Linked DNA regions of Homo sapiens: region 2 is linked to region 1. Evidence: fine-mapped expression QTL. A gene starts in region 1. The other region holds a variant in brackets. All regions are shown on one strand. Distances are between the middles of the regions. Region 1 holds the start of IPP (intracisternal A particle-promoted polypeptide). Region 2 overlaps TMEM69 (transmembrane protein 69).

Region 1 (15,681 bases):
GGACTAACAGAGAACATTGATTCAGACAATGGGACCCACTTTACTGCACACATCATTAAGGGGCTAACCCAAGCAACAGGAATAAAATGGGAATATCATACTCCCTGGCACTTCCCCTCATCAGGGAGGGTAGAAAGAATGAATCAAACTCTAAAAAATCACCTAACCAGGCCAGGTGCGGTGTAATCCCAGCTTCTCAGGAGGCTGAGGCAAGAAGAATTGCTTGAGACTGGGAGACAGAGGTTACAGTGAGCCGAGATCGTGCCACTGCACTCCAGCCTGGCCAACAGAGTGAGACTCTGTCTCAAAAAAAAAAAAATCACCTAACCAAATTAATCTCGGAAACCCAGTTACCATGGACAAAATGCCTTCCCATGGCCTTACTAAGAATCCAAACTGTCCCTTGAAAAGATCTTGGCCTGTCCCCTTATGAAATGCTCTGCGGGCTGCCTTATCTAAATTCCACTACTGACCTTCCCACATTTGAAACAAAAGGTCAGCTTCTCAAAAACTATATACTTGGTCTGTCTTCCACCCTTTCCTCCCTCAGGACTCAAGGCCTCCTAGCGCAAACTCCACCCCTCGAATTCCCAGTTCACCAACACCAGCCCGGAGATCACGTCCTTATCAAAAGTTGGAAAGAGGGAAAGCTCAAACCAACCTGGGAGGGACCTTATCTAGTACTCCTAACCACTGAAACAGCAATCCCAACGGCTGAAAAAGGATGGACCCACAACACTTGAGTAAAAAAGGCCCCACCCCTTGGAGAGTCATGGACTTTCACTCCAGGACCTACAGTCTCCAAACTAACATTCAAAAGGGTTTAATCTGTCTTTTTCTTCTGCCTTTAGCTACCCAAGGACATCTAATCATCAGTGTAACCCAATCACCCTCCCCCCAAACAATTATATTCAATGCCTGTCTTGTCATGCCCTGTGGGGATCTCCAAAGTCAAAGATAGCTAGCCTCTTCAGAAAAGTACCTTTGTCCCTCTAGGATAAATTACACTGCCTACAAAACTAACTCTTGCACTGAATGGGCACGAACTTAGCATTGATGGTTTTGCTATACTTGGGGAGATGTTATATGGACTACTAAGTATCAGGGCTGGACCTCCTCAGAGGGTTGCACCGCCCTAAATCCTACCTCCACTTCATCAAAGGAACCACCCTCTCTAGTTGCCAATCTTACCATTGCAACCCAGTACTTATCTTTATTAATACCCCTACCTCCACCAGCCCTACACCCACTTTAGAGTGCTTTTATGGCCTAGGAGCAGATGTCACTGGAAAGGACCCTATAGGCTTCTTCGAAACGCACTTTGTTCCTCCTCCTCCATCTTCCACCATTACGCCCTCCCCAAACCCACAAAATCAAACCATTTCTCTCTTCATGCCCAATGACAAAACCAAAGTAGCTAGAGTAGAAGTCAAGGACTTAAACCAAACCATAGCCATAGAAACCGGGTATCAAGATGTAAATGCCTGGCTGAAATGGATTAAATATTCTGTTGACACACTAAATAAAAGCGATTGTTATGCTTGTGCAACGGGCAGGCCAGAAATCCAAATTGTTCCCCTCCCACTCGGATGGGCCAACCAACCCGGCATGGACTGTATGGTAGCTCTCTTCTAGCACCCCACAGCTTGAGGAAACAAGTCATGTGCCACTCTTACTTTTCCCAAAGGTCAGGAGCCCTATGGGACAGCCCCCAAGGGCCATTCAACTTCCAGCTCTTGATGCCAATTTTACCTCATGTCTCTCATGGCAAGGGGAAAATTTGACATTCCTTGGAAACATAATAGGATGTAGTGACACTAAACTTTTTCAAACTTTTTTCAGTCAGTCGGCCCTATCCATCCCTGAGTGGATGTGTGGTGGTATTGTGGGGGACCAATATTGGGTACACTGCCAAACGACTGGAGTGGCACTTGCGCTCTGATCCAATTGGCCATCCCTTTCACCTTGGCATTTCATCAACCAGACAGGAAGCAGGTAACCTGAAGAAAAAGAGAAGTCCCAATTAACGGGTCCTTTGACCCCCACGTTTACATAGACAGCATTGGGGTCCTGCCGGGGGTACCAAATGAATTCAACACTTGAAACCAAATAGCTGCTGGGATCGAGTGTATCTTATTCTGGTGGTACACTATAAATAAAAATGTAGACTGGATAAATTATATATACTACAATCAGCAGCGATTCATCAATTATACCAGAGATGCCATAAAAGGAATAGCTGAACAATTAGGCCCTACCAGCCAGATGGCCTGGGAAAATAGAATAGCGCTTGACATGATGTTAGCCAAAAAAGGCGGAGTCTGTGTCATGATTGGGGTCCAGTGTTGTACTTTTATCCCTAATAATACACCACCCGATGGGACAATCTCAAAAACCTTACAAGGCCTTACCACCCCAGCAAATGAATTAGCCGAAAACTCTGGAATAGAAGATCCCTTTATGGGCCTGATGGAAAGGTGGTTTGGAAAATGGAAAGGACTCATGACCTCAATCATTACCTCCCTTGCAATTGTTACAGGTGTACTCATCCTTGTGGGCTGCTGTATCATACCCTATATTCGTGGGTTAACCCAAAGGCTCATAGAAGCAGCTCTCACAAAATCCTCCCCTACGTCTCCCCCTCTGTACTCAGATAAGTTCTTGCTCCTAGATAATCAAGAAGAACAACAAAGCCAAATCCTGTTGAAGAAATCTGAAGAGGAAGAGCTATAGAACAGAAGAGGGGAAATTGTTGGGACAACTAAGTGCCTCTTCAAAGACTCAACTTTCCGCTCGTAAGTTGTAAAAGTTGTAAATCAATCCTACCTGCCCCCCTTCTTCTTCTTTTTGCAAATTGTGCGTTTACCATATTTGGAAAAGTTTAAGTCTTAGCCAATCAGGATCAGCTTAGATTGTGCAGTCCAACCCCAGTCAATAGGGGAAGGACACAAAAACAGGAACTGCATTAGGATTAAAAACTCCTTCCCTCCTTTGTTTGGTGTGCTCTTGTGATTTTAACAGGCGCAAGCAGCACCATCCTGCAGAAGTAAAGGTGCCTTACTGAGAAATTTTCTGTCTAAGTGTGGGTTTCTTTTGGCTACGCCAAGCACTTGTTTCCAATAAATTTGGGGGCTCGTCTGGGATCCTGTTCTCCTTCGGGAGGGGCTAGCGATTATCTTTTATGGGGAGACGCATCCCACTGCCTCACTGTGGTAGCTCCAAATACCATTACATTGGAGGCTAGGGCTTCAACATGTAAATTATGGGGAGGACACAATTTAGTCTATAGCAGCCTATAAGCATTTTTTTTTTTTTGAGACAAAGTCTTGCTGTTTTGCCCAGGCTGGAGTGCAGTGGCATGATCTCAGTTCACTGCAATCTCTGCCTCCCAGGTCCAAGCAATTCTAAAGTTAACATTTTATTTGGGAGGCAAGAATTGCAATTCAAAGCATATACACAGACTGGGTGTTCTTTGGTTCACTTTGAGGTTTTACAAAAAGGAGAAATGTTACATATGGCTTTGAAAGAAAGTTCATTGGCACTAGGAAAGTTTTAGGTTGCTGGCAAGCTCTGATTGGTGAGTGACTGCAGTGGGTAAAACTAGTCCTTTGAGGCTGGGCTCAGTGGCTCAAGCCTGTAATCCCAGGACTTTGGGAGGTTTAGGTGAGTGGATCACTTAAGCCTGGGAGTTCAAGGCCAGCCTGGCAACATGATGAAACCCTGTCTCTACAAAAAAGACAAAAATTAACTGGGCTTGCTGGTATGCAGCTGTAGTTCCAACTATTTGGGAAGCTAAAGTGGGAGGATTGATTGAGCCCAGGAAGTCAAGGCTGCAGTGAGCCCCGCCCCAATCACACCACTGCACTTCAGCCTGGGTGACAGGGAGAGAGACCCTGTCAAAAACAAAACAACAACCAACAACAACAACAAAAACCACCAAAAAACCAAACTAGTCTTTGAGTCATGGCAGTTTGTTTCAATAGCTATTGGGTAAAACTGGTTTCAGGTTACAACAGGCAGTTTCAGCAGACAGGGTTGCAGAGAATTACATTCTTTGAGCAATGAAATGTGCCCTCAGTGTTTCCCCTCCCACCATTTTCGGTGGGTATGAGAAGAATGGCCCAATCTGTATGCTTAACTTTCACAAGTGTAATCCAGAGTAAGTCATGAAATTGATTTTAGTAGTGCTGAAGTATAATTTTCTGAAGAGTAAAACCATGACTCTCTTACAAATATAAAAAAAAAGTATCAAATATTTTATTTATCTCATTAACTTATAAGGGAGCCAGTAAGATATTTAGGAATGTAGCATGAATTTGCTAAGAATCAGGAATGTTTAAATGAATTTGCTGAGAAGGGTAAAAATGGCTTAATATGCTACAGGTCAATAAAACAATGTTTTGGTGTATCTTTTCTACAGACGGGCAAGAATTATTTTAAGTACTACCAGTTTTCTGGTGAAATACTTTAGTCAATAGAAAGTCAGAGCTCCCTATGGATGCAAATCCGTCCAGCCTTACACTGAAAGGGCACACAGAATTCTCTTTTCCTCATTTCCAAGTCTTTGACAATGTTTGCTGACAATAGGTCCCTGTTAGCAGTTTTTGGTAATGAAGTAGAAAAGAAGAAATAAAAATTTAGTGCACTGCGGGTCGTAAGTGTAAACATAGTTTTGTGAAGATTTTGTTTCAGGCCAGGCACAGTGGCTCACACCTCCCAGCACTTTGGGAGGCCGAGGCGGGCGGATCACTCGAGCCCAGGAGTTGGAGACCAGCCTGGTCAACATGGCGAAATCTTGTCTCTACTAAAAATACAAAAAATTAGCCTGGCGGTGGTGGCACAGGCCTGTAGTCCCAGCTACTCAGGAGGCTGAGGTGGGAGGACTACCAGAGCCCAGGAAGTCGAGGCTGCAGTGAGCCGAGATGGCACCACTGCACTCCAGCCTGGGCGACAAAGCCAGGCCCTGTCTCATAAAAAGAGAAAGAAATACACTTTGGGAGGCCGAGTCGGGCGGATCACCTGAGGTGGGGAGTTTGAGACCAGCCTGACCAACATGGAGAAACTCAGTCTGTACTAAAAATACAAAATTAGCCGGGCATGGTGGCGCATGCCTGCAATCCCAGCTACTTGAGAGGCTGAGGCAGGAGAATCGCTTGAACCCAGGAGGCGGAGGTTGCGGTGAGCCGAGATCCGGCCATTGCATTCATTCTAGCCTGGGCAACAAGAGCGAAATTCCGTCTCAAAAAATAAAAAATAAAAATAAAAATAAAGAAATGAGATTTTATGTTAGATATATACTTCTATATATATACTCACAAGTATGTGGTATTGAGTTTGATGTAAAATATTTTTGTTCACCGTAGGCTGGGATCAAAACAGTTTGAAAGCCACTAATGTGACACATGAGGGTCAACAGTGAAAAAAACTGGACTTTTGAGTTCTTCCTTCCCCAAAATAAGTATCCCTTCAGTGCCAGGCTCAGTCATGCACTCAGAAAACGATTCGAGAGAACAGTAGAGAAGGACCGTGCCAGGTGTTCGGCTCGTCTCTGCTTAACTGAGATCCGCGGCCTTCTTGGGACACCACAAGAATCAGAGTGCAAGCGGAATGGAAAGGGCGAGCCAGCCGGCCCCAGCAGGCAGAAGCAGAGGCTTGCAGCTAAGCTGTTGATCCTTGGGGAAGCAAGCCCAAGCCCTGGGCCCCATCAGTGGGCACTGAGAGGCGCCAGCGGCCCAGTCTCCCGCGAGCGGAAGAACCTCGCGCACGCGCAGTGAAAACCCAGGGCCCGCGAAGCGTCCGAAGTCCCTTCCCACCGCCCGGCTTCGCCTCCAGTTCTCGGGGAACTGTACGGCCCAGTCACTCCCGCCTCGTCACCCCCGCCAGGTTTCCCCCGCCCTCTCCGGCCGGGGCTGGTCGCGACTGCGCGCGCAGGGCCTGAGCGGGCGCCGGAGGGAAGGGGAAGCGGCGGGTAAGGAGGGCCTGCGTTCGGGCGCGTCTGTGACGGGGTTGGGAACTTCCTCTTCTACTCCCTCCGGCTTTCCGGACCCCTGAGGACTGGAGTGAGAGAAGCCTCTAGAACTGTGTATTTCCTTGTCTTTCCTTCTGCCGCCGCAGGCCTTCCTCCGACAGTCTAAGTGTCGCCCTCCCCAGACCTTCTCGTCCGGACCGCTCCTGCCTCCCCCGCCCCAACTGGGGAATCCTGAGGCTGTGTCCCCAGTCCCTCTGTTGTCGCCTCGTTTGTCTGAGATCCCTTCCCTGACCTTTAGGTAGCGCAGGAACGATTATTAGCTTTTAGTGTAGCAGCAGTTTAGGGCTAGCTCTCTAGGCCGGGCCCCCAACTCAAGCACAAAGAACCACGGGTGTTTTGACACTTGTTCCGGGGATTCTTTCTGACACCCCTTTGCTGAAGCAGTTTCCACATGTTCCCAGCAGTGAATTCAAAGCCAGCAAACATAGGTCCGCTTTAGTTCCTCTGGGCATTTCTACCGTTTCCTAATAATCTGCTTTTTTTTTTGAGACAGTCTCGCCCCTTCTCCTAGGCTGGAATGCAGTGGTGCGATCACAACTCACTGCAGCCTCGACTTCTCAGGCTCTAGCGATCCTCTCACCTCAGCCTCCCAAGTAGCCGGAAGTACAGGCTTGCCCCATCACAGCCAGCTAATGTTAAAACAATTTTTTTTGCGGCGGGGGGCTCGCTGTATTGCCCAGGCTGGTCTTGAACTCTAGGACTCAAGCGATCCTCCCTGGCCGGGCGCGGTGGCTCACGCCTGTAATCCCAGCACTTTGGGAGGCCGAGGCGGGCGGATCACGAGGTCAGGAGATCGAGACCATCCTGGCTAACACGGTGAAACCCCGTCTCTACTAAAAATGCAAAAAATTAGCCGGGCGTGGTGGCGGGCGCCTGTAGTCCCAGCTGCTCGGGAGGCTGAGGCAGGAGAATGGCGTGAACCCGGGAGGCGGAGCTTGCAGTGAGCCGAGATCGTGCCACTGCACTCCAGCCTGGGCGACAGAGCGAGACTCCGTCTCAAAAAAAAAAAAACAAAAAACAAAAACAAAACAAAAAAAAAAAACAAAAAATCAAGCGATCCTCCCGACAGGACATCCCAAAGTGCTGGGGTTATAGGTGTGAGCCACCTTGCCCAGTCAACAATCTGCTTTTCAAGTTTGGGGCACGTGAGGCATGCAACGTCACAGAATTGTGCTCTTTTCCTTTGGAAATATGGTCACTCCACATGCCACCTTTTGGGATGACGTTCCTACTCCACTGACAGTGGGATGGTATCAGCAGTTACTGAGAAGCATGGTAACAGACTAGTATTTCTGTTGTCTGCCACCCGAATGGATATTCAGTCAACTCTTTCTTGTAGCAGGAGGCAGCATTTTAGCTCAGTGGCTGTGCTTGATGCCTTGAAGTAGGGGACAGAGGAGGTACCTTGTAATTAAACCACTAGGGTTCAAAATGTGCTGACAGAAATGTAAAACAGAAAAGGCCTGACAGTCATGTCATGTTGATAATAGTTCCAGGTCACATTTCTGTGTAGGGCCAAATACATGGTTTCTCCGCCCCCACCCCCTTTTTTTCCTTTTTTTTTTTTGAGACGGAGTCTCTCTGTTGCCCAGGCTGGAATGCAGTGGCTCCATCTCCACTCACTGCAACCTCTGCCTCCCAGGTTCAAGCGATTCTCCTGCCTCAGCCGCCCACGTCACTGGGATTACAGGCGCCCACCACCATGACTGGGTAATTTTTTGTATTTTTTAGTAGAGATGGGGTCACCATGTTGGCCAGGCTGGTCCTGAACGCCTGACCTCTGGTGATCCACCCGCCTCAGCCTTCCAAAGTGCTGGGATTAAAGGCGTGAGTCACCGCACCTGCTTTTTGTTGTTGTTGTTGTTGAGACACGGTCTTGCTCTGTTGTCCAGGCTGGAGTGCAGTGGCACCATCTCAGCTCACTGCAGCCTGGACTTCCCTGGCTCAGGTGGTCCTCCCACCTCAGCCTCCCCTGAGTAGCTGGGACTACAGGCCTGTGCTATCATGCCTGGCTAATTTTTTTGTATTTTTAGTAGAGACAGGGTTTAGCCATGTTGCCCAGACTGGTCTCAAACTCCTGGACTCAAGCGATCTGCCTGCCTCAGCCTCCTAAAAATCTGGGCTTACAGGTATGAGCCACTGTGCCCAGCCCCTTTCACCCTCTTTAAAAAATTTATTTTTCACTTCAATTTGGGTGACAGAGTGAGACCCTGTCCCCCAAAATAGATATTTTTTAAATTGGCACATAATAATTGTTTTATATTTACATTTATGAGGTACAGTGTGATATTTTGATACATGTATATAATGTATAATTATCAAATCAGGGTAATTACCATATTCATCACCTCAAACACTTCTTGCTATTATATGCTAGTTATATGTAATATGTTGATATTCTGTAGATGGTGATATGAAGTTTTAGCAGCTACCTTCGAATCTCTCAATCAAATTTCTCAATAAGTTAATTCCTAGAAAGTGATGATAATCAGCCTTGTTATTTTGACTTTGATAAGTTTAAATGCTATAAACGTAACCATTTTTTTTCTAACATCAGCCCACACTATAAGTCTTATTACCCATTGTCATTGATACCTAAATTACAAAATCTTAGTCATCTTAAATTTCCCTGTGCTATTCCATATGTCTTATATTACAGGATCTCATGGTTTTTTTTTTTTTTTTTTTTTTTTTTTTTTTTTGAGACAGAGTCTTGCTCTGTTACCCAGGCTGGAGAGCGGAGGGCAGTGGTGTGATCTCAGCTCACTGCAACCTCCATCTCCTGGGCTCAGGTGATTCTTGTGCCTCAGCCTCCCAAGTAGCTGGGATTATAGCCCTGATCCACCACGCCTGGCTAATTTTTATATTTTTAGAAGAGACGGGGTTTTGTCATGTTGGTCAGGTTGGTCTCGAACTCCTGGATTCAAGTGATCCTCACGCCTCAGCATCCCAACGTGCTGGGATTACAGGCGTGAGCCACTGTGCCCAGCAGTTTCTTTATTTAAAAAGTAATTTAGAACGTGTCCGGTGGCCTAATAATTCCTATGCAGTGTGATATGGTGGAACAGTCCTGGATTTAGAGTAAGAAGGCCTGGATTCAGATACTGAGACTGTCATACTAACATTGTATCCTTGGGGAAACTTTGAGCTTCAGTTTCCTTTTCTCTCATTTTAGATAAGATTATCTTTTCTTCTCACCTCTTAATTATTGTGAGAGTTACCATTGACATAATATGTGGAGAAGTTAAAAGTTAAAAAAAAAACCCAACCTAAGCTGTTGTTATTTCTCCTTGTTCTCATTCATTTCACAAACATTGGAAACCTAACATATGTTATATACTGGTGCTAAAGCTATGAAAGATAGTACCTGCCTTTAAAGGGCTGTGTTTCAAGGAGCTCTGAAGCGCGCGCGCGCGCTCGTGTGCGCGCGCATGCGCGCACTAAGAGTAGGGTGGTAGGGTATTTGATAAGGTAGACCTGTGCTATAGAATGTAAAACCAATAAGCTTAGGGTGAGCAACAAACTCAGATGAGTTTGGGAACATATTTCCACAATTCCAGAGGAGCAATGGGGAAAGGTTCCTGGAGGAAGTTATATTTGAACAGAGTCTTAAATTATAACAAGAATCCCGAAGGGCTTTGTGTGCTACGGGAAGTGTACACATTGAATGATTTTAAGCAGTTAGACTGATCACAACTGCTTTTCGAAAGTTGCTGTTGTCTGTGATGTGTGCTCTGTGATGTGTGCTTTGTTAACTTTCTGTCTTTGTGTTTTATTATTATTTTTTTTACTCCATCAAGAAGTGTCCTCTCCTCATACCTTAATATTAACTGTTTATCTTTCAGTTTCTAGTGCAGGTCCCATTTCTTGTGTGAAGCATTCTCCAATTATTTTAGCTTCCCTACTTATTTCATTCTCTGAAACCATATTAGAAATAGTAATAGTACCACACTTTAGTCCTTATTTGTTTTATGTCCTTAAGTAGATTTTAAGTATAGAGAATGCTTCTTATGTGTGAATAGAAAGCATGTTAAAAAAATTTTGTTGCTTGATCTCTTTGTATTTTGTTTTTCAGGGTAGTAACAGATTATGGGCAACAGTCCTTTTAATTAATCTACCGTCATCATGGCTAATGAGGACTGTCCCAAGGCTGCTGATAGTCCTTTTTCATCAGATAAACATGCCCAACTCATCTTGGCCCAAATCAATAAGATGAGAAATGGACAGCATTTCTGTGATGTGCAGCTGCAAGTTGGACAGGAAAGTTTTAAAGCTCATCGGCTGGTTTTGGCTGCCAGCAGTCCTTACTTTGCAGCTTTGTTCACTGGAGGAATGAAAGAGTCCTCAAAAGATGTTGTACCGATTCTAGGAATTGAAGCAGGAATCTTTCAGATACTTCTAGATTTCATTTACACAGGTATGTTACATGAGTCTGTTGCTTTGACTGAAGAATGATTCAATCACTCATGCACTAATGTGGAAATATAAATTGATCTAACTTATCTAGAAGGTAATTTAGCAACATGTTATTATGTGACTGAAAATTCATATCTTATGACCCGGTGCTCCTTTTCTAGGAATCTGAAGGAATTAATTAGTGATGCAGGCACATATTTACAAACCAGGATTTTATTGTAACATTATTATTATTATTTTATTTTATTCTTTTTTTGAGATGGAGTCTCTCTCTGTCGCCCAAGCTGGAGTGCAGTGGGGCGATCTTGGCTCATGGCAACCTCTGCCTCCCAGGTTCAAGCGATTCTCCTGCCTCAGCCTCCTGAGTAGCTGGGACACAGGCGCATGCCACCACACCTGGCTAATTTTTTTTTTTTTTTAATTTTTAGTAGAGACAGGATTTCACTGTGTTAGCCAGGATTGTCTCGATCTCCTGACCTCATGATCCGCCCGCCTTGGCCTCCCAAAGTGCTGGGATTACAGGCGTGAGCCACTGCGCCTGGCCTGTGACTTTATTTATAGTAGTATATAATTGAATAAAATCTTGTCTCAGTAGGTTTTATGGCTAAATAAATTATGATACATGTATAGATCTCACAAATGAGATCTAACAAATCTTAAAATATATGTATACTATTATGGAAGAATGTTTACAATATATAAAATTTTAAAAATCAGGATATAAATAAACCCCTATTTTGTTTGAAACACAACCCAAAAAAACTTATATGTATTTACACATGAGAAAGCAGCCAGAATGTTTGATAGCATTTATCTGTAGGTAATTTTTTTCCACAAAGTGTTTATAATCAGCATATGTTATTTTACTCAAAACTATCTCTTAAATGTTTTTGAAGAGTTTTAATAACATTAGAGAATGTACACAGGGGCACAGTGGTTCATGCCTGTAATCCCAGCACTTCGGGAGGCCAATGTGAGAGGATTGCTTGAGGCCAGGAGCTCAAGACTATGCAGGACAACATAGCAAGACCCCATTTCTAAAACAAAAAAAATTTTGTTTGAGACAGGGTCTCTCTCTGTTGTCTAGGCTGGAGTGTGGTGGTGCACTCACACTTCAATGCAGCCTTAATCTCCTGGGCTCAAGTAGTGCTACCATCTCACCACCCTGCATAGCTGTGACTACAGGTATGTGCCACCATGCCTGACTAATGTAAAACAAATTTTTTGTAGAGACAGGGTCTCACTACATTGCCCAGGCTAAAAAAAAATTTTTTTTTTTTTTTGAGACAGAGTCTCGCTCTGTCACCAGGCTGGAGTGTAGTGGCGTGGTCTCGGCTCACTGCAACCTCCGCCTCCCAGGTTCAAGTGATTCTCCTGCCTCAGCCTCCCGAGTAGCTGGGACTACAGGCACGTGCCACCATGCCCAGCTAATTTTTATATTTTTAGTATAGACGGGGTTTCACCATGTTGGCCAGGATGGTCTCGATCTCTTGACTTCGTGATCCACCTGCCTCGGCCTCCCAAAGTACTGGGATTGCAGGCGTGAGCCACTACGCCTAGCCAAAAAAAAATTTTTTTTAATTAGCTGGGTGTGTGGCTTGTGTCTTTAGTCCCAGCTAACGGGAGGCTGATGTGGGAGGATCCAGGAGTTTGAGGCTGCAGTGAGCTATGATCAAGCTGCTGCACCCTGGACTGGGAGACAGAGTGAGACCCCATCTCTGAATAAAATAAAACAACTGGAATGATGAAGAGGGGAGTAGGGGAAGGGGAAAGAAAGAGAAGGCACACCAAAACGATGTATAGTCTTACAGGATATGCAATAAATATGCATAGAAAAAAGATTTGAAAGGCTGAGATGGGATGATCACTTGAGCCCAGGATGCTGCGGCTTCAGTGAGTGATGATCATGCTACTGCACTCCAGCCTGGGCAACAGAACAAGACACTGTCTCAAAAAGAGAGAGAGAAAAACTATGTGAAGAAAGACACTACAGTGTTAATACAATGTATGTCTGTGTATGGAAAAATATGTTTTTCATTTTAGTTTTTCTGTCTTAAAGTTCTTTTTCCACAGTGAATATATATTACTCTTTTTTTTTTTTTTGGTGACGGGGTTTCACTTTGTCGCCCAGGCTGGAGTATAGTGGCACAATCTTGGCTCACTGCAACGTCTGCCTCCCAGTTTCAAGCGATTCTCCTGCTTCAGCCTCCCAAGTAGCTGGGATTATAGGCTTGCACTAACATGCCCAGCTAATTTTTGTATTTTTTTTTTTAGTAGAGACGGGTTTTCACCATGTTGGCCCGGCTGGTCTCAAACTCCTGACCTCAAGTGATCCACTCACCTCAGCTTCCTAAAGTTCTGGGATTACAGGGGAGAGCCACTGTGCCCAGCCTCTTTTATTTTTTATTTTGTGAGACAGAGTCTTGCTTTGTCACCCACGCTGGAATGCAGTGGCAAAATCATTGCAGCTTGACCTCCAGGGCTCAAGCTATCCTCCCACCTCAGCCTCCTGAGTACCTGTAGGACCACAACACACACCACCATGCCTGGCTAATTTTTAAATTTTTTTTGTAGAGATTATGTCTAGCTATGTTGCCCAGACTGGTCTCAAACTCCTAGGCTCAAGCAATCCTCCCACCTCAGCCTCCCTAGTAGCTGAGACTACAGGCGCACATGCTACCACACCTGGCTAATTTTTTTTTTTTTGAGGCGGAGTCTTGCTGGGCTTAGTGGCGCACACCTGTAGTCCCAGCTACTCAGGAGGCTGAGCCAGGAGAATTGCTTGAACCTGGGAGGCAGAGGTTGCAGTGAGCAGAGACCATGCCACTGTACTCTAGCCTGGGCAACAGAGCAAGAGCCTGTCTCAGAAAAAAAAAAAAAAAAAGATGGGTGTGGTGGCTCACGCCTGTAATCCCAGCACTTTGGGAGGCTGAGGTGGGTGGATCACCTGAGGCCAGGAGTTCGAGACCAGCCTGACCAACATGGTGAAACCTCGTCCCTACTGAAAATACAAAAATTAGCTGGTTATGGTGGTGCGCATCTGTAATCCTGGCTACTTAGGAGGCTGAGGCAGGAAAATCACTTGAACCCAGGAGGTGTTGGTTGTAGTGGGCCGAGGATGCACCACTATACTCCAACCTGGGTGACATAGTGAGACTCTGTCTCGAAAAAAATAAAAAAATAAAAAAATAAAAAAAAGAAAGTGAAGCCCTTGGAAAAGAAAGTGGTATACGTAGTTAAGTATTTAATAGTTTCTCTTATGTTATAGATTATTGGTTATTCCTAATATTAAAAACTAGCATTGTGTATAATCCCTGCACTTTGGGAGGCTGAGGTGGGTGGATTGCTTGAGCCCAGGAGTTTGAGATCAGCCTGGGCAATGCGGCAAAACCCTGTCTCTAAAAAAAAAACCACAGAAAATTAGCCGATCATGGTGGTGAGTGTCTGTAGTACCAGCTACTCGGGAGGTTGAGGTGGGAGGCTCACCTGAGCGTGGGAGGCAGAGGTTGCAGTGGGCCAAGATTGCGCCACTGCACTCCAGCCTGGACAACAGAATGAGACACTGTCTCAAAACAAGCACAAACAAAAAATGAACATTATGTGGCGTTTTATCATAATTGAAGATAGAGACCTTGTCTTACTCTCCCCAGTGCCTCAGTAAATGTCTGTTACATGCATATAACCTTATGTTAAAAGCATAGACTTTATTTGTTGTTGTTGCTGTTGTTGTTTGTTTTTTTTCTTTCCAACTTTTAGGTTCAAGAGGTACATATGCGGGTTTGTTCCATGGGTAAATTGTGTGTCTTGGGGGCTTGGTATGTAGATAATTTTGTCCCCCAGTTAATCAGTATAATACCTGATAGGTAGTTTTTCAATCTTTACCCTCCTCCTACCCTCCACTCTCAAGTAGGCCCGAATGTGTATCCATGTCTTCTTGGTGTCCACGTGTATGCAATGTTTAGCTCCCATTTATGAGTGAGAACATATGATATTTGGTTTTCTGTACTTGTGTTAATTTGCTTAGAATCATGGCCTCCAGCTCCATCTGTGTTGCTGTAAAGCACATGATTTCCTTCTTTTTTATGGCAAAAGCATGGACTTTGATGTCAACCCCTACCTTGCAACTTGCTTTACCATGCAACTTGTGGACAAGTGACTTAAACTTTGATTCTGTTTCTTTAATATGAAAATAAGGCTGGGCGCGGTGGCTCACGCCTGTAATCCCAGCACTTTGGGAGGCCGAGGCGGGCGGATCACAAGGTCAGGAGATCGAGACCATCTTGGCTAACACGGTGAAACCCCGTCTCTACTAAAAATACAAAAAATTAGCCGGGCGCAGTGGCGGGCGCCTGTAGTCCCAGCTACTCGGGAGGCTGAGGCAGGAGAATGGCGTGAACCTGGGAGGCGGAGCTTGCAGTGAGCCAAGATTGTGCCACTGCAATCCGGCCTGGGCTAAAGAGCGGGACTCCGTCTCAAAAAAAAAAAAAAAAAAAAAAAGAAAATAAGAAAAATAATAATATCTACCACATGGGATTATAATAAGGGTTAAATTAGCATATAAAGCAATTAATACTGCACCTGGTTCATTGTAAGTTTTTCATAAATGTGTTAGGTATCGTTATCGTTTAAATTTTGTGCTCTTTACTCAAATCCTTGATTGCCTTTTTTAGTGTCTGTCTACTCTGCAGGCATCAAACTATCAGTGAAATCAAGTATAATACTTTTTGAATATGGTAAGCCAATGTTTGTTTTTATTTTATTGGCCATTTTGTCTTCCTACTTCTCTAGGTATAGTGAACATAGGTGTGAATAATGTCCAGGAGTTGATTATTGCAGCAGACATGCTACAGTTGACTGAAGTTGTTCATCTTTGCTGTGAATTTCTGAAAGGACAAATTGATCCACTGAACTGCATTGGAATTTTTCAGTTCTCTGAGCAAATTGCCTGCCATGATCTCTTGGAATTCTCAGAAAACTACATTCATGTCCATTTCTTGGAGGTTCATAGTGGAGAAGAGTTCCTGGCACTTACGAAAGATCAGCTGATCAAAATTTTGCGAAGTGAAGAGCTTAGCATTGAGGATGAATACCAGGTCTTCTTAGCTGCAATGCAATGGATTCTGAAAGATTTGGGAAAAAGAAGAAAACATGTGGTGGAAGTGCTAGACCCAATTCGATTCCCTTTATTACCTCCTCAGAGACTTTTAAAGTATATAGAAGGTAACTTTTTTGCTATA
Region 2 (15,077 bases), 48 kb after region 1:
GATAGTTTGCTGGGTATAGAATGTTAGGTTGCTTTTTTTTTTTTTTTTTTTTGGAGGTGAGTTTCACTCTCATCACCCAGGCTGGAGTGCAGTGGTGCGATTTTGGCTCACTGCAATGTCTGCCTCCCAGGTTCAAGTGATTCTCCTGCCTCAGCCTCCTGAGTAGCTGGTATTACAGGTGTGTACCACCACACTTGGTTAATTTTTGTGTTATTCCTAAAGACGGGGTTTCACCATGTTGGCCAGGCTGGTCTTGAACTCCTGGCCTCAGGTAATCCACCTGCCTCGGCCTCCCAAAGTGCTGGGATTACAGATGTGAGCCACCGCGCCTGGCCCTAGGTTGCTTTTTTTTATCTTTAATCACCCTGGGCTGGGCGCGGTGGCTCACGCCTGTTACTCCAGCACTTTGGGAGGCCGAGGCGGGCAGATCAGGAGGTCAGGAGATTGAGAGCATCCTGGCTAACACAGTGAAACCCTGTCTCTGCTAAAAGTACAAAAAATGAGCTGGGCGTGGTGGCTGGCGTCTGTAGTCCTAGCCACTTGGGAGGCTGAGGCAGGAGAATGGCATGAACCTGGGAGGTGGAGCTTGCAGTGAGCTGTGATCATGCCACTGCACTCCAGCCTGGGCGACAGAGTGAGACTCCATCTCAAAAAAAAAAAAGTAAAAATAAAATAAAATAATCACCCTGAAGATGTTTTTTAATTTCCTCTTAGATTTTTTTCTGACAAGTAGTCAGTAGTAATTTTTGTCTTTGTTCCTCCATATGTAACGTGTTTTTTCTTCCGCAGCTTTTAAGATTTTCTCCTCATCATGGGTCTTCAGTAATTTGATTATGATGTGCCTTGTTATTTTTGTTTAACCTTTTTGGAATTCATTGAACTTCTTGAATCTGTGGGATTATAGCTTTAATCAAGTTGGAATGTTTTCTGCCATATTTTTTCAAATATTCTCTTGTCTTTCTGGGATTCCAATTATATATATATATGTAAGACCACCCAATATTGTCCCACAGCCATTGAGGCTCTGCTAAGTTTTTCCCACTCTTTTCTCTCTATGCTTCAGTTTGTCTAGTTTGTTTTGCTCTGTCTTCAAGTTTATTAATCCTTTAGAGTATCCAAACTTCTAGTTCGCAGTGTCCAATCCCATCTATGGAATTTTTCATTTTAGATATTGTATTTTTTAGCTCTAGAAGATCTGTTTTCTTATGTCTTCTGTTTCTCTCCTCATCATGTTCATATTTTCCTTTAGCTCCCCAAACAATTAATAATATTAGTTTTAAAGTCATGTCTTTTTTTTTTTTTTTTTTTTGATATGGAGTCTTGCTCTGTCACCCAGGCTGGAGTGCAGTGGCGCGATCTTGGCTCATTGCAAGCTCCGCCTCCCAGGTTCACGCCATTCTCCTGCCTCAACCTCCCAAGTAGCTGGGACTACAGGCGCCCACCACCACGCCTGGCTAATTTTTTGTATTTTTAGTAGAGATGGGGTTTCACCGTGTTAGCCAGGATGGTCTCGATCTCCTGACCTCATGATCCACCCGCCTCGGCCTCCGAAAGTGCTGGGATTACAGGCGTAAGCCACTGTGCCCAGCCTAAAGTCTTTTCTAATTTCATCATCTCTGTCATGTTTGGATATGTATCTGTTGACTTGTAAAATTTTAGAGACAAGGTTTTGCTGTGTTGCTCAGGGTGGCATCAAACTCCTAAGCTCAAGTGGTCTTTCTGCTTCAGCCTCCTGAGTAACTAGTACTACAGACATGCACTATGGTGCCTTGTTGACTTTTTAAATTCCTGGTTTGAGTAACATTTTTTCTGGCTTCTCCACATTTCTATTAACTTTTGATTAGATGGTAGACATTGTAAATATTATGCTGCTGAGTATTTGGATTTTGTTTTCTTCTTTTAAGTGTTGAATTTTGTTTTGTTAAATAATTCAATTATTTGCAAATCAGACTGATATTTTTGAGACTTAAAAAAATTATTTAGGCTGGGTGCAGTGGCTCACACCTATAATCCCAGCACTTTGGGAGGCCAAGATGGGTGGATCACTGAGGTAAGGAGTTCGAGATCAGCCTGGCCAACATGGTGAAACCCTGTCTCTACTAATAAAATACAAAATTAGCTGGGCAGGTTGGTGCATGCCTGTAATCCCAGCTACTTGGGGGGCTGAGGGAGGAGAATCGTTTCAACCTGGAAGGCAGAGGTTGCAGTGAGCTGGGATCACGCAATTGCACTCCAGCCTGGGCAACAAGAGTGAAACTCCATCTTGGAAAAAAAAAATTATTAAAAAATTTTTTTCAGAGATGAGATCTTGCTGTATTGTCCAGGCTAGACGCAAACTCCCGGACTTAAGTAATCCTCCCAATTTAGCCTTCCAAGTAAGCTGGGACTACAGATACATGCCATGGTACCCAGCTTGAGACTTGTTTTAAGGCTTTGTAGGGAAGGTCTAGAGTAGCCCTTCCTTTAGATCTAGTTTATCCCTATTACTAAAGCATGACTCTTTTTGGGTCTCTGCTGATTGCCCCAGGTGTTCAACAAATTATCTTCACTTTGGTTGGTCAGAACTCAAATATCTCATAGCCTTGTGTGAGCTCTAGGAATTACTCAGCTTACAACTCCTCCCATTAGTTGTCCTTTGCCTGTACCCACGGAATCTCACCTTAGCATGCATAGATTAGTAGTATTCAGTCAAAGACTGAAGGGGACCTGTATACTGTACCAAACTCTGATCTCTGTCTCCTGTATCAGCTGACTATCATGCACTGCTTGAGATCCCCTTCTGCGTACCTGTTTTCAAAAAGCCCCTCCAGGCATAAAGTCTAGGTGGCTGTGTTTACTTTGTTTCATTTTCTCAGGGATTACAGTTTTACATTGCCTGTTATCTAATATCTGAGAGGTTTTTTGTTTGTTTGTTTGTTTGTTTGTTGAGACGATGTCTCACTCTGTCTCCCAGGCTGGAGTGCAGTGGGGCAGTCTTGGCTCACTGCAGCCTCCACTTCCTGGGTTCGAGTGATTCTTGTGCCTCAGCCTCCCAGGTAGCTGAGATTACAGGTGCGCACCACCACGCCCAGCTAATTTTTGTATTTTTAGTAGAGACAGGGTTTTGCCATGTTGGCCAGCTGGTCTCAAACTCCTGACCTCAAGTGATCTGCCCACCTCAGCCTCCCAAAGTGCTGGGATTACAGGCGTGAGCCATCACCGCACCTGGCCTAATGCCTAAAAGTTTTGTTTCATGTTTTATCTAGTTTTCTAGGTCTTTAGGGTCAGAGGGCAAGTTTGGTAACAATTGATCTATTATGTCTGGAAATGGAAATCCCTCCTGTGTCCTTTTGATACATTACTGTCATTCATTCAGCATTTCTTTATTTTCCGGCAGAAATATTTTCAGTTTATCTTATACTTTTTCTGCTTTAGCCCTGGAATCAGCCATTTCTTCAAGAAGCCTTATTTCCTTTTGGTGAAGGACAGTATTTAGAAACCAAGATGTACACACTTAGAGTACTAAATGCTACTTGGATGTTGCTGCTTCTAGCTGTAGCAGGGCAGGAGAGCCCCAAATTGGGCTTAGCCCAGGAATGTTCTTGGCCTTGCTCAGGATGGAATTTAAGAGCAAGCTGGTGGTAGAAGAAAACAACCTTATTGAGGTGGCAGTGTTACAGCTCTGTAACTACTTCTGCAGAGCGGGGCTACTCCATAGACAGTGTGTTGAGAGTAGCAGCTCAGAGGCAGTTCTGCAGTCATTTATACCTACTTTTAATTATGTGCAAATTAAGTGGTGGGTTATTCAGAATTTTCTAGAAAAAGGGTGGTACTTCTGGGTTGTTGCCATGGAAAGGACAGTAACTTCTGGGTGTTGCCACTGGCAATGGTAAACTGACAGGGCACTGGTGGGTGTGTCTTACAGAGAGTTGCTTTCGCCTCTTCCCTGTTTCAGCTAGTCTTCAATCTTGTCTGGAGTTGATTCACCACCTTCTACCTCATAGCCACCCTCAGTAAACAGAGCTAGGAAATGTATGTATGTAAACAGGTTTTCACACACATATTCATCTGTAAATATTTCTATATCTATTTGTGCAGTTATATTGTAAAACCATGAATTCATAATGATAGCTCCAATTCTAGTACACCAGGTTTTTTCAGGCCTTCTCCCTTTCCATGTTGTAAATACCTTTTCTGTCAGTTAAAGACTTTGCTTCCGCCGGGCGCGGTGTCTCACGCCGGTAATCCCAGCACTTGGGGAGGCCGAGGCGGGTGGATTGCTAGGTCAGGAGTTCAAGACCAGCTTGGCCAACATGGTGAAACCCCATCTCTACTAAAATTACAAAAGTTAGCTGGGCGTGGTGGCAGGCGCCTATAATCCCAGCTACTCTGGAGGCTGAGGCAGGAGAATCGCTTGAACCCAGGAAGCCGAGGCTGCAGTGAGCCAAGATCACGCCACTGCACTCCAGCCTGCGTGACAGAGCGAGGCTCTGTCTCAAAAAAAAAAAAAAGACTTTGCTTCCATTATCCTCAATATTTCATTCAATTTACTTATTTGCTAAATGAAGCCAATTTTCTTACCATACCAGCTGTCTTCTCCATCTAACATCTCCAGTGACCCATCCAGTCACTGCCTAGGTGAATTCCCCAGGGTTCCCTCATTCCCTCAGTTCCTGGGTTGACACAATTATGCTTATAGTAAGAGAAGAGAAGAGAAAGGTAGGAGACAGGAGGTTGCATCTTCACTGAGTCACTGTTCTGTCATGTATTTGTTCATTAGCTCATTTATTCATTCACAAATACAGACTTCTTAGTATGTAAGTATGGATCAGACACCATGCCAGGCAGAAACAAGAACAAACTCAACATATACAGCCACTGCTCTCAAGGAGGCTACATTGCATTGAGGAATACGAGAAATAAATAGTCAGTTATGTTACAATGTGTTAAGTGCTGGGAAAGTGAAGTACAAAGTGTGTTATGCCCTAGACTTACAGGTTAGGCCAGCTTTTTCCGAATTAATTTCCATGGAATACTAATTTTTTGCACTGTTAATAGGAATTGAGTAACTTGAGTTTCCCTGGTCAACTATATTCAAGGAAATCTGGGTTAAACCAGGTTAAATTAGTTTCTTTACCACAGGACTTCTTTACAGAATTTAGTACAATAATGTACTTTATGAATCTTTATGTCAAGTCTCTCAAATTCACTTGAACATAACCACCCTTGCTTTGTTCTGTGGATATTTGCAGAATATCTTGTGGAAGTGTTTCAGGGAACAAATTTTGAGAAATAAGGTTTAGTCTTATTTGAATTTTATGGTTTTTAATGTCACTTATGGTTAGTAAAACCTTCAGAACTTTTGGCCAGGTGCAGTGGCTCACACCTGTAATCCCAGCACTTTGGGAGGCCAAGGTGGGTAGATCACTTGAGCCCAGGAGTTCAAGACTAGCCTGGGCAACATGGTGAAAACCCTGTCCTATAAAAAATGTGAAAATTAGCCAGGTGTGGTAGTGCACGCCTGTAGTCCCAGCTCCTCAGGAGGCTGAGGTGGGAGGATCACCTGAGCCCAGGAAGGTCAAGGATGCAGTAAGTCATGATTGCACCACGGCACTCCAGCCTGGGCCACAGAGTGAGACCTTGTCTTTAAAACAAACGAACAAAAAAGATTGTTTTACTTCTTAAATCTGGATTAAAACTAGATGCATTTTTTTTCATTGTTTTCCCCTCATTACCCTAGCTAGAACCTCCAGTACAATGTTGAAGTGGCAAGAATGGACTTTCATGTCTTGTTGTAAAGCATAAGGATTTTGATTCTCATTTCTGACAAGTTTTAAACTTTGGTGACATTTCAAATTCCTTTCTCCATGATCCTATTTGAGTTTATCTAATATAGAAAGTGAACTTTTTGAGGGCACTTTCTGTTGCTAATTTTTCTATATGGCTTTGAAATGAATAGATTTTAGTTTCAAATTAAGTCTTATCAATAATTGTTAATGGTCGGGTGCAGTGGCTCATGCCTGTAATCACAGCACTTTGGGAGGCTGAGGTGGGTGGATCACCTGAGATCAGGAGTTCAAGACCAGCCTGGCCAACATGGTAAAACCCTGTCTCTACTAAAAATACAAAAATTAGCTGGGAGTGGTGGTGCACACCTGTAATCCTAGCTACTTGGGAGGCTGAAGCAGGAGAATTGCTCCAACCCAGGAGGCAGAGGTTGCAGTGAGCCAAGATCATGTCACTGCACTCCAGCCTGGGCGACAGAGTGAGACTCCGTCTCAAATGATAATAATAATAACAACAACAACAACGACAATGTGTTACCTTGTTTTTTATGCATATGAAATTTTATTGTTATTGACTACCTACTAACAATTTGTGTTACAAATCCAGAAAAGATAATGTAAAACTTGTTAGTGTTCTTACAGAGTTTTTTTTTTTTTGAGGTAACATGGGATAAAAAGCAAATTATATTAGATGAGAACATGTCAATTAAATCAAAAATAAAGTAATAAAAATTTAAAAATTAAACTGTAGTTCTAATACACTGGTAGAAATGAAAGAAGAACAATATAGGATGAGCCCTAAGGTCCCTTTGTTATTGTCAAGGGGCATTTTGTGGGAGAGCAAAGGTTCTCCCTAATTACAAACATAACCTAAATTATCCTAATTTATCTTAACCAGAAATGGATCTTCTTGAGAATGTATTTATATTTTAAAATGTAAGTATTTTTCAGTTGTGTCAGTTTTGTGATGTGCTGTGTAATTTCAGATGATCAAATAGCTTTCAAATTTAATCTAGTCCTTCACTTTCAAAGAATTGTCCCTGGTTTAGTATTTCATAATCTTATTTAAGTTCACATCAGCAAACATACACTAACTGTTTATAATATGATGGCACTATCCTAGTACCTATGTGGGTACTGGGATGAGAAGCTCAAGTCCCTGTCCTCAAAAATTTACTTTCTAGCATTGATGAATAATCAGTCTTCACTATTTATGATTAAAAAAACTTTGTTCATCATATGCTTTATTTAAAGATTGATAATCTGTTCTCCCATTACCTGGCCACTTGCTCTTTGCTCTCCTAATTACTTCTTAGGACCTTTAGTAGCTTTCTTGTTTTCTGAGTATGGACGTTTTCCCTCAAGTAAGACACTACTAGTCGCTGGGTGCGGTGGCTCACGCCTGTAATCCCAGCACTTTGGGAGGCCAAGGCGGGTGGATCACTTGAGGTCAGGAGTTTGAGACCAGCCTGGCCAACACGGTGAAACTGTCTCTACCAAAAATACTAAAAATTAGCCAGGCGTGGTGGCGGGTTCCTGTAATCCCAGCTACTCAGGAGGCTGAGGCAGGAGAATCGCTTGAACCTGGGAGACAGAGGTTGCAGTGAGCCAAGATCACACCATTGCACTCCAGCCTGGGCAACAAGAGCGAGACTCCGTCTCAAAAAAAAACAAAAAAAAAAGTAAGACACTACTAGTCATTTTGGCTATAGCAGCACATTGAAATTTCTTCAGGGAATGATGTATAACAGGAGTTAGCAAACTTTTTGTGTAAAAGCCCAGATAGTAAATATTTTTGGCCTGTGGGCCATACACAATATCCTTTTTTGATATATGCTTTGTCTTTTTTTAAAAAATACCTTTTAATATGGGAAAATCATTGTTTGTTCTCAGGCTATACCAAAGTAGACTATAGTTCCCAACCCCTGGTTAGCCCACCTTTTTGAAAATATGTTCTGCAGATTACTAACTCCACTGGATGCTCCTTGTAAAAAGGATTCCATGGTCAAATAAATTTGTCAGGTGTTCCATGCTGTGTCATTCTCTTGGACATTTTTAAGACTCATTAAAATACTAAAGGCTTTTAAAAAATCCTTTGGTTTATAAGCTTCTTTCTCCTTGGAGCTTTGTGGTTCTTTTGTTTTTATTTGCTTATTTTTGAGTGTATTACCTACTTGTATTCCATAGACTTTGTTTCTTAGAATGTTGTCCTGTGTATGAGTTCTAGGTCATTTCCTGATCATGTTTTATAATCAGACCTTTTAAAAAATTATATTCCTCTAAATTTACTTTGTTCATGCCCACTTCAAGTTTATTTTAAAATATTCTGGGCCGGGTGCTGTGGCTTACACCTGTAATCCTAGCACTGTGGGAGGCTGAGGTGGGACAATCACTTGAGTTTAGGAGTTTAAGACCATCCTGGACAACATGGTGAAATTCCATCTCTACAATAGAAAAATTAGCTAGGTGTGGTGGTGTACACCTGTAGTCCTACCTACTCAGGAGGCTGAGGCAAGAGGAGCTCTTGAGTCTGGGAGGTTGAGGCTGCGCTGAGCCGAGATCGTTGCTGTGCATTCCAGCCTGGGTGACAGAGCGAGACCCTGTCTCCAAGGAAAAAACAAAGCAAAAAAAAGAAAAAAAAATCTGTATGCTTACCTGACTAGATAGTTTTACATTTAAACATGTAAAAAGAACTGGGATATCGAATTTCTCAGTGGATTTCTTTACTATCATTTCATAACACTGCTAACATATTTTTTTTTTCTCTCTTAACCAGGAAAAGTGGGTTGAAGTTGCCTCAATGAAAGTGCCTAGAGCAGGCATGTGTGTTGTGGCAGTCAATGGTCTTCTGTATGTTTCTGGAGGTCGATCTTCCAGCCATGATTTTTTGGCTCCAGGTACCTTGGACTCAGTTGAAGTTTATAACCCTCATTCAGATACATGGACAGAAATTGGTAACATGATCACCAGTCGTTGTGAAGGGGGCGTTGCTGTGCTATGAAATATAAAGCATAACAGAGCACAAGGAACATTTTGAAAATGCAGGACCTGACCTTTTGCAAAGCAAACATAGATTTGGTGATAAGACCCTCTGATTCTGTGAGTTTTCCATGTATTTGGTAGATAAATGACTAACGAGGCTGGGCGCAGTGGCCTCATGCCTATAATCCCAGCACTTTGGAAGGCTGAGGCAGAAGGATCACTTGAGCCCAGGAATTTGAGGTTGTAGTAAGCTACGATCATGCCACTGCACTCCACTCTGGGCAACAGAATGAGATCCTGTCTCTTAAAGAAAAAAAATAAACTCAAGAATGATTTTTCTAAAAATATGAGTGAGAATGGATATGGAATATATCCCAATTAATAAAGAGCTCACACAGATTTGCCAGGTTTACTAATAATAGAAATGCCATTTATGCTGTAGAATTCTCCAGTTTAAGTGTAGACAACTCCTATTTTACAAATTTGTAGAAATTATTTACTAGAAGCTTCCTGGCAAATAGTCCCTTTAGCTACTTCTCCAGTGCAGTATAAATTGTAACATAAAACTTTATGTGATATAGGAATAGTGTCAATGACACAGTTTAAAGACCTCTATATTCACAATTATATCCAGAGCATAATTTTCCATGGCCATAGTTTGAGCCACAGAGAAAGCCAATGAAATAGATTCCTACTTTTATTTAATGCCAAGAGTTTTCACTAGCCCCAAACTTTTTATTGGCAGCAGATATCCTAGGAGGGGTGTTTGGGAAATATCTAGCTATTTTAATAGATAGATACCTTTTTGCTTGATGATAAGTTTTTGCTTGCTCATATTTTTTGTCTTGATCCTGAGAATGCAAGTAAGGAATTAATAGGAGGTTCTTAGTGACCAGATGTTGTAATGGGCTATACAGTCCAGCAGGCAGTATGCACCTAGAAATTTCTCCCTTTTTTAGGCTGGGCATGGTGGCTCACACCTGTAATCCCAGCACTTTGAGAGGCCGAGGTGAGACGGGAAGATGGCTTGAACTCAGGAGTTCGAGACTAGCCTGGGCAACGTGATGAGACTCCGTCTCTACCAAAAAATATATAAAAATTAGCCGGGCGTTGTGGCTTGTACCTGTGGTCCCATCTGCTTGGGAGGCTGAGGTTGCAGGATCACTTGAGCCCAGGAGGTCAAGGCTGCAGTGAGCCAAGATTGTGCCACTGCACACCGGCCTGGGTGACAGCATGAGAACCTGTCTCAAAAAAAAAAAAAAAAAAA[G/AG]AAAAAAAAATTCTTCCTTTTTTGCTAGATTGTTGTCACCAAAATTATCTGTTTGGCTTTAGGAAGAGGGAATTTTATTAGATTATCAAGCTTTGTAAAATTTATTTGTACTTGGGCAAACCTAAGTAAGAGCATACTGCAAAGCTACTGCTTGGATGTAGAGGGCTAAATTGTAGGTACTTCTGAAACTTTTTATAGATACTGACTCATAAGTGTAATTTGAAAGTACCCCTTGACCCAAACAAAACTGCTTCTCAAAACTTCTCATTTTCTCCCTGAGAAGCATTCTAAAGAATTGTTCTCTGTTCATTTCTAAGAGAAAGATTTACTGGGTGTATGATGCGGTTACTTTTAAGTTATTTCTACTGGCCAGTTGGAGCAATATATATTAAAGGTCTTGCATACAGTAAAAAAAATTTTTTTTTGAGATGGAATTTTGCTCTTGTTGCCCAGGCTGGAGTGCAAAGGCGTGATCTCGGCTCACTGCAACCTCCGCCTCCCGGATTCAAGCGATTCTCCTGCCTCAGCCTCCCAAGTAGCTGGGATTACAGGCGCCCACCACCATGCCTAGCTAATTTTTCTGTATGGGGTTTCACCATGTTGGCCAGGCTGGTCTCGAACTCCTGACCTCAGGTGATCCACCTGCCTTGGCCTCCTGAAGTGCTGGGATTACAGGCATGGGCCAGCGTGCCCGGCTGCATACAGTAAAATTTAACTAGTTGACTTAAGGATTTGATTTCCCGTTTCTTTTTTTTTTTTTTAGATGGAGTCTTGCCCTGTCACTCAGGCTGGAGTGCAATGGTGTGATCTCAGCTCACTGCAACCTCTGCCTCCCTGGTTCAAACGATTCTCCCGCCTCAGCCTCCCGAGTAACTGGGATTACAGACGTGAGCCACCATGCCTGGCTAATTTTTTGTATCTTTAGTAGAGACGGAGTTTCACCATGTTGGCCAGGCTGGTGTTGAACTCCTGACCTTGTGATCTGCCCACCTTGGCCTCCCAAAGTGCTGGGACTATAGGTGTGAGCCACCGCACTCTGCCGATTTCCCATTTCTTTGCTAAGGTCCTTCAGTATATTACTATAAGCATCATCAACTTATTTAGATAGAAAACTTTTAATTGCATTAATGAATTAGGTAGCACTCATATCCAAATTATTTGGTTTAGGCCGGGCACCGTGGCTTATGCCTGTAATCCTAGCACTTTGGGAGACTGAGGTGGGCAGATCACTTGAGGTCAGGAGTTCAAGACCAGTCTTGCCAACATGGTGAAACCCCGTCTCTACTAAAAATACAAAAAATTGGCAGCAGGTGGTGGTACATGCCTGTAATCCCAGCTGCTGAGGAGGCTGAGGCAGGAGAATCACTTGAATCCAGGAGGTGGAGGTTGTAGTGAGCTGAGATCATACCACTGTGTTCTAGCCTGGGCCATAGAGCAAGACTTTGTCTCAAAAAAAAATAAAACAAAAAATATTTGGTTTAGTCTACAACTATACCTTCCTTATAACTTAACCATATGCATTTATTAGGAAAAGTTTATGTAATGCAGACAGGAAGCTCTATGTTCCCTTCTCTGGGGCATCCTGAACGTCTGAAGGGTCACAGATGTCTGTGTAGAGATCTGTAAGATGTCAAAGAATAAAGATAATTTATAGACTAAGCTATAACTCATGTGCCTTTACTATTTCTAGTTACAGAGAATCTGTATTCTGATTCAAAACAGATTTACAAAATACTTCTACAACTAATTTCTCATTGTCTAGTAGCAACTGAAAATGACACTTTGAAGGGGTGTGCTTTGCACAGCTGTGGCAGAAATGTAATGTCAAGGCAGTCAGTGTTTTAACAGGTCCCGAAGATCCCTGAAAATAGGTGACTGTAAATATGCTTATTATTCCTAGGTAATGACAAGATTGGTTTTGTTTTTGTTTTTGTTTTGAGATGGAGTTTCGCTCTTGTTGCCCAGACTGGAGTGCAATAGCATGATCTTGGCTCACCGCAACCTTTGCCGCCCGGGTTCAAGCGATTCTCCCGCCTCAGTCTCCTGAGTAGCTGGGATTGCAGGCATGAACCACGAGGCCCAGCTAATTTTGTATTTTTTGTAGAGGTGGGGTTTCTCCATCTTGGTCACGCTTGACTCGAACTCCCGACCTCAGGTGATCTGCCTGCCTTGGCCTCCCAAAGTGCTGGGATTACAGGCATGAGCCACCTCACCAGGCTAACAAGATTGTTTTTAAAAGAATGTACTAATAAAGTATCTAGTTTTTTTGTTTCTTTGTATTACTTTATCAGTGGCATTCTGGGTTACCAAACTGTAGTAGGATTGCACAAGTTTTTTAGTTGGTTTTGTTTTAACTTTAAGGACTTGCACATTTCATTTTACATTTAATTCTGTTTTTTGAGAAATGATTAAAGTGATCTACCTCCAAAATGTTTAACAATCCGATATGCTTCTAAGTATCCTGCCAATGTACTTAATCAAATGTACTTAAAAATCAGTTTTCTTAAAGAAGCATACACTGTAATTCACCTGGAAAAATAGCATTTTTAAGTAAAATTAGGCAATTAGCCTAAAAATATGATTTGCCTCTATTCTGGAAAATAATTCATTTAATTCAGATTATGGAAAAGTCTTAAATTTGTATAGCATTCATGCAATTTAATAACAAAGAAGTGAGTTTCCTTATCAAAACAATCTGAGTAGAATCAGATTGAGACTGAGTGGAAACATCATCTCTAAAAAATATACAGGCCGGGCACGGTGGCTCATGTCTGTAATCCCAGAATTTTGGGAGGCCAAGGTGGGTGGGTCACCTGAAGTTGGGAGTTTGAGACCAGCCTGACCAACATGGAGAAACCCTGTCTCTACTAAAAATACAAAATTAGCTGGGCATGGTGGCGCATGCCTGTAATCCCAGGTACTCGGGAGGCTGAGGCAGGAGAATCGCTTCAACACGGGAGGCGGAGGTTGCGGTGAGCCGAGATAGCGCCATTGCACTCCAGCCTGGGCAACAAGAGTGAAACTCCATCTAAAAAAAAAAAAAATTCCAGGTTATACTATATCCTGATCTATATCCTTAGACCATTTTTAATCCTTAGACCATTTTTAATGTTTTTCCTTTTTGGTGAGACTAGGAATTTCAGAAAACTAGGTTTTCTGTTAATTCTTTTTTTCTCCACCTTAAGTAGAGTGATTAGAGACTACGTTTTCAAGTGAAAATCTAAGGTGTTGCTTTTGCTGTTTTAAGAAAGCTTCTGCACTGGGTGCAGTGGCTCACGCCTGCAATCCTAACACTTTGGGAGCCTAGGCAGGAGGATTGCTTGAGCTCAGTTCAAGACCAGCCTGGGCAACATAGGGAGACCCTGTCTCTACAAAAAATTAAAAAATTAGCTTGGCATAGTGGTGCACAACTGTAGTCCCAGCTACTCAGGAGGCTGAGGTGGGAGAATTGCTTGAGCCCAGGAGGTCGAGGCTGCAGTGAGCCATGACCACACCACTACACTCTGGCCTGAGCAAGAGTGAGACCCTGCGTTTAAACAAAACAAAACAAAAACAAAAACACACCAAAGCTAAAAGCTTCTCTGTGATTTAAAAGATGTAGAACTAGACCAGCCTGTCCAACATGGTGAAATGCCACCTCTACTAAAAATACACACCAAAAAATTAGTTGGGCATGGTGGCACGTGCCTATAATCCCAGCTACTCTAGAGATGCTGAGGCAGGAGAATCGCTTGAACTCGGGAGGTGGAGGTTGCGGTGAGCCAAGATCGTGCCACTGCACTCCAGCCTAGGCGACAGAATGAAACTCCATCTCAAAAAAAAAGATGTAGAACTAGATAGGCCTGCTCATTAGAATATCAAGATGGCTCCAGCTTGACTTTTCTTTCCTAATTTATATGTACTAGTGGCTTTATTTTAAATAGTTTCCTTTGAAAATAATCATTTTGACCAGCTATTATGTGTTTGGTGGTAAGGGACAAGTTGTTATCTGTACCATGCCAAATATCCTAATAAAAACTGGAAAACATGTCCAACTTACCTTTGAATGTGGCTTTCCCTCATGACACTGCTCCCTACTGACTTTAGAGCCATAGATCCTTTTAGCTCATATAATTGGGTTATACCATGTGAAATAAGTTTGGACATGCCTTTCCCAGTGGTAACTCCTGTGAAAACTCAATGGAACTACCTTTTCTTTTCAGATACTCACAGATACGAGGTTTTCCGCTTGAAGTGGGAGAATATGTGCATTCTTTTCAATGATCACAAGACTCTAACAAAGGGGATTTTTAATCTTTAATTTTCAAGATGGTTAAAATATTGAAATGTTTAAGTGGATAACTATATTATTCATAAAATGACTGAGTGAAAACTAATATACTATGAGATGAAAAGTACTTGTCAGGGATTTTCAAGCTTTTGCTCAAGTAATTACCATGAAGTAACAATTTCTAGAAATGAAGAACAATCTGTGAAGATAAATTACCATTGGTGTGGGGAAAAAAAGCCAAACAGAAGTAGAAAAAGGTGTAGCTGGCATACAAATGTTATCTACAGTGTATTTATATATATATATTTTTAAAACTTTTAACTAAAAAGTAAACTTTAATGTCGAAAATGCAAACTTGGGGAAGACAGAAAAGATCACACACAAGGCTGTCACTTCACACGTGGAAGGTTGCACAGCGGCCGGGCAGAGGCGCTTGTCACACTTCCCAGATGGTCAGGCGGCCAGGCAGAGGCGCTCCTCACTTCCCAGACGGGGCAGCAGCTGGGCAGAGGTGCTCCTCACTTCCCAGACTTTTATATTTTTTATACTTGACCAGGTCTCTTATGTCCTTTTTCTGGAAAACTACTTTTAACTACTAAAGTGATTATAAATGAAAAAGTGGCCAATAAAGTGACTACTATCCTCAGGGCTTTAAACCAGTTGGGATAATGTGGTAAGAGAAAAAGTTCAAGGTGGAATGCTACTCCCATACCCATTATTACTGTGACTATGGCTTCACTAAGTCTTTCAGAAATAAGGAAGGCAAACCATGAAAAGAAAAGAGGAGCTGCAC

Evidence for each region.
Region 2: its variant is fine-mapped to the expression of IPP in whole blood (INTERVAL, PIP above 0.99).

Annotation. Positions count from the first base shown.
Region 1 is chr1:45,740,884-45,756,564 of GRCh38, reverse strand. It overlaps IPP (intracisternal A particle-promoted polypeptide), which reads left to right and starts at 5,912. Exons shown (of 9, transcript NM_005897.3): 1 at 5,912-5,968; 2 at 10,104-10,445; 3 at 15,233-15,664. The coding sequence starts at 10,154. It overlaps LOC105378693 (a long non-coding RNA gene), which reads right to left and starts at 5,616. Exons shown (of 3, transcript XR_947290.2): 1 at 5,317-5,616; 2 at 1,824-2,000. RefSeq lists a silencer at 5,802-6,071.
Region 2 is chr1:45,693,655-45,708,731 of GRCh38, reverse strand. TMEM69 (transmembrane protein 69) reads right to left here. Exons shown (of 3, transcript NM_016486.4): 3 at 14,296-15,077. The coding sequence ends at 14,827. IPP (intracisternal A particle-promoted polypeptide) reads left to right here. Exons shown (of 9, transcript NM_005897.3): 9 at 8,542-10,021. The coding sequence ends at 8,766. Among named protein-coding and RNA genes, the nearest start is that of TMEM69, 13 kb to the right of the region's middle. The variant G/AG (reference allele first, on the strand shown) is at 10,015.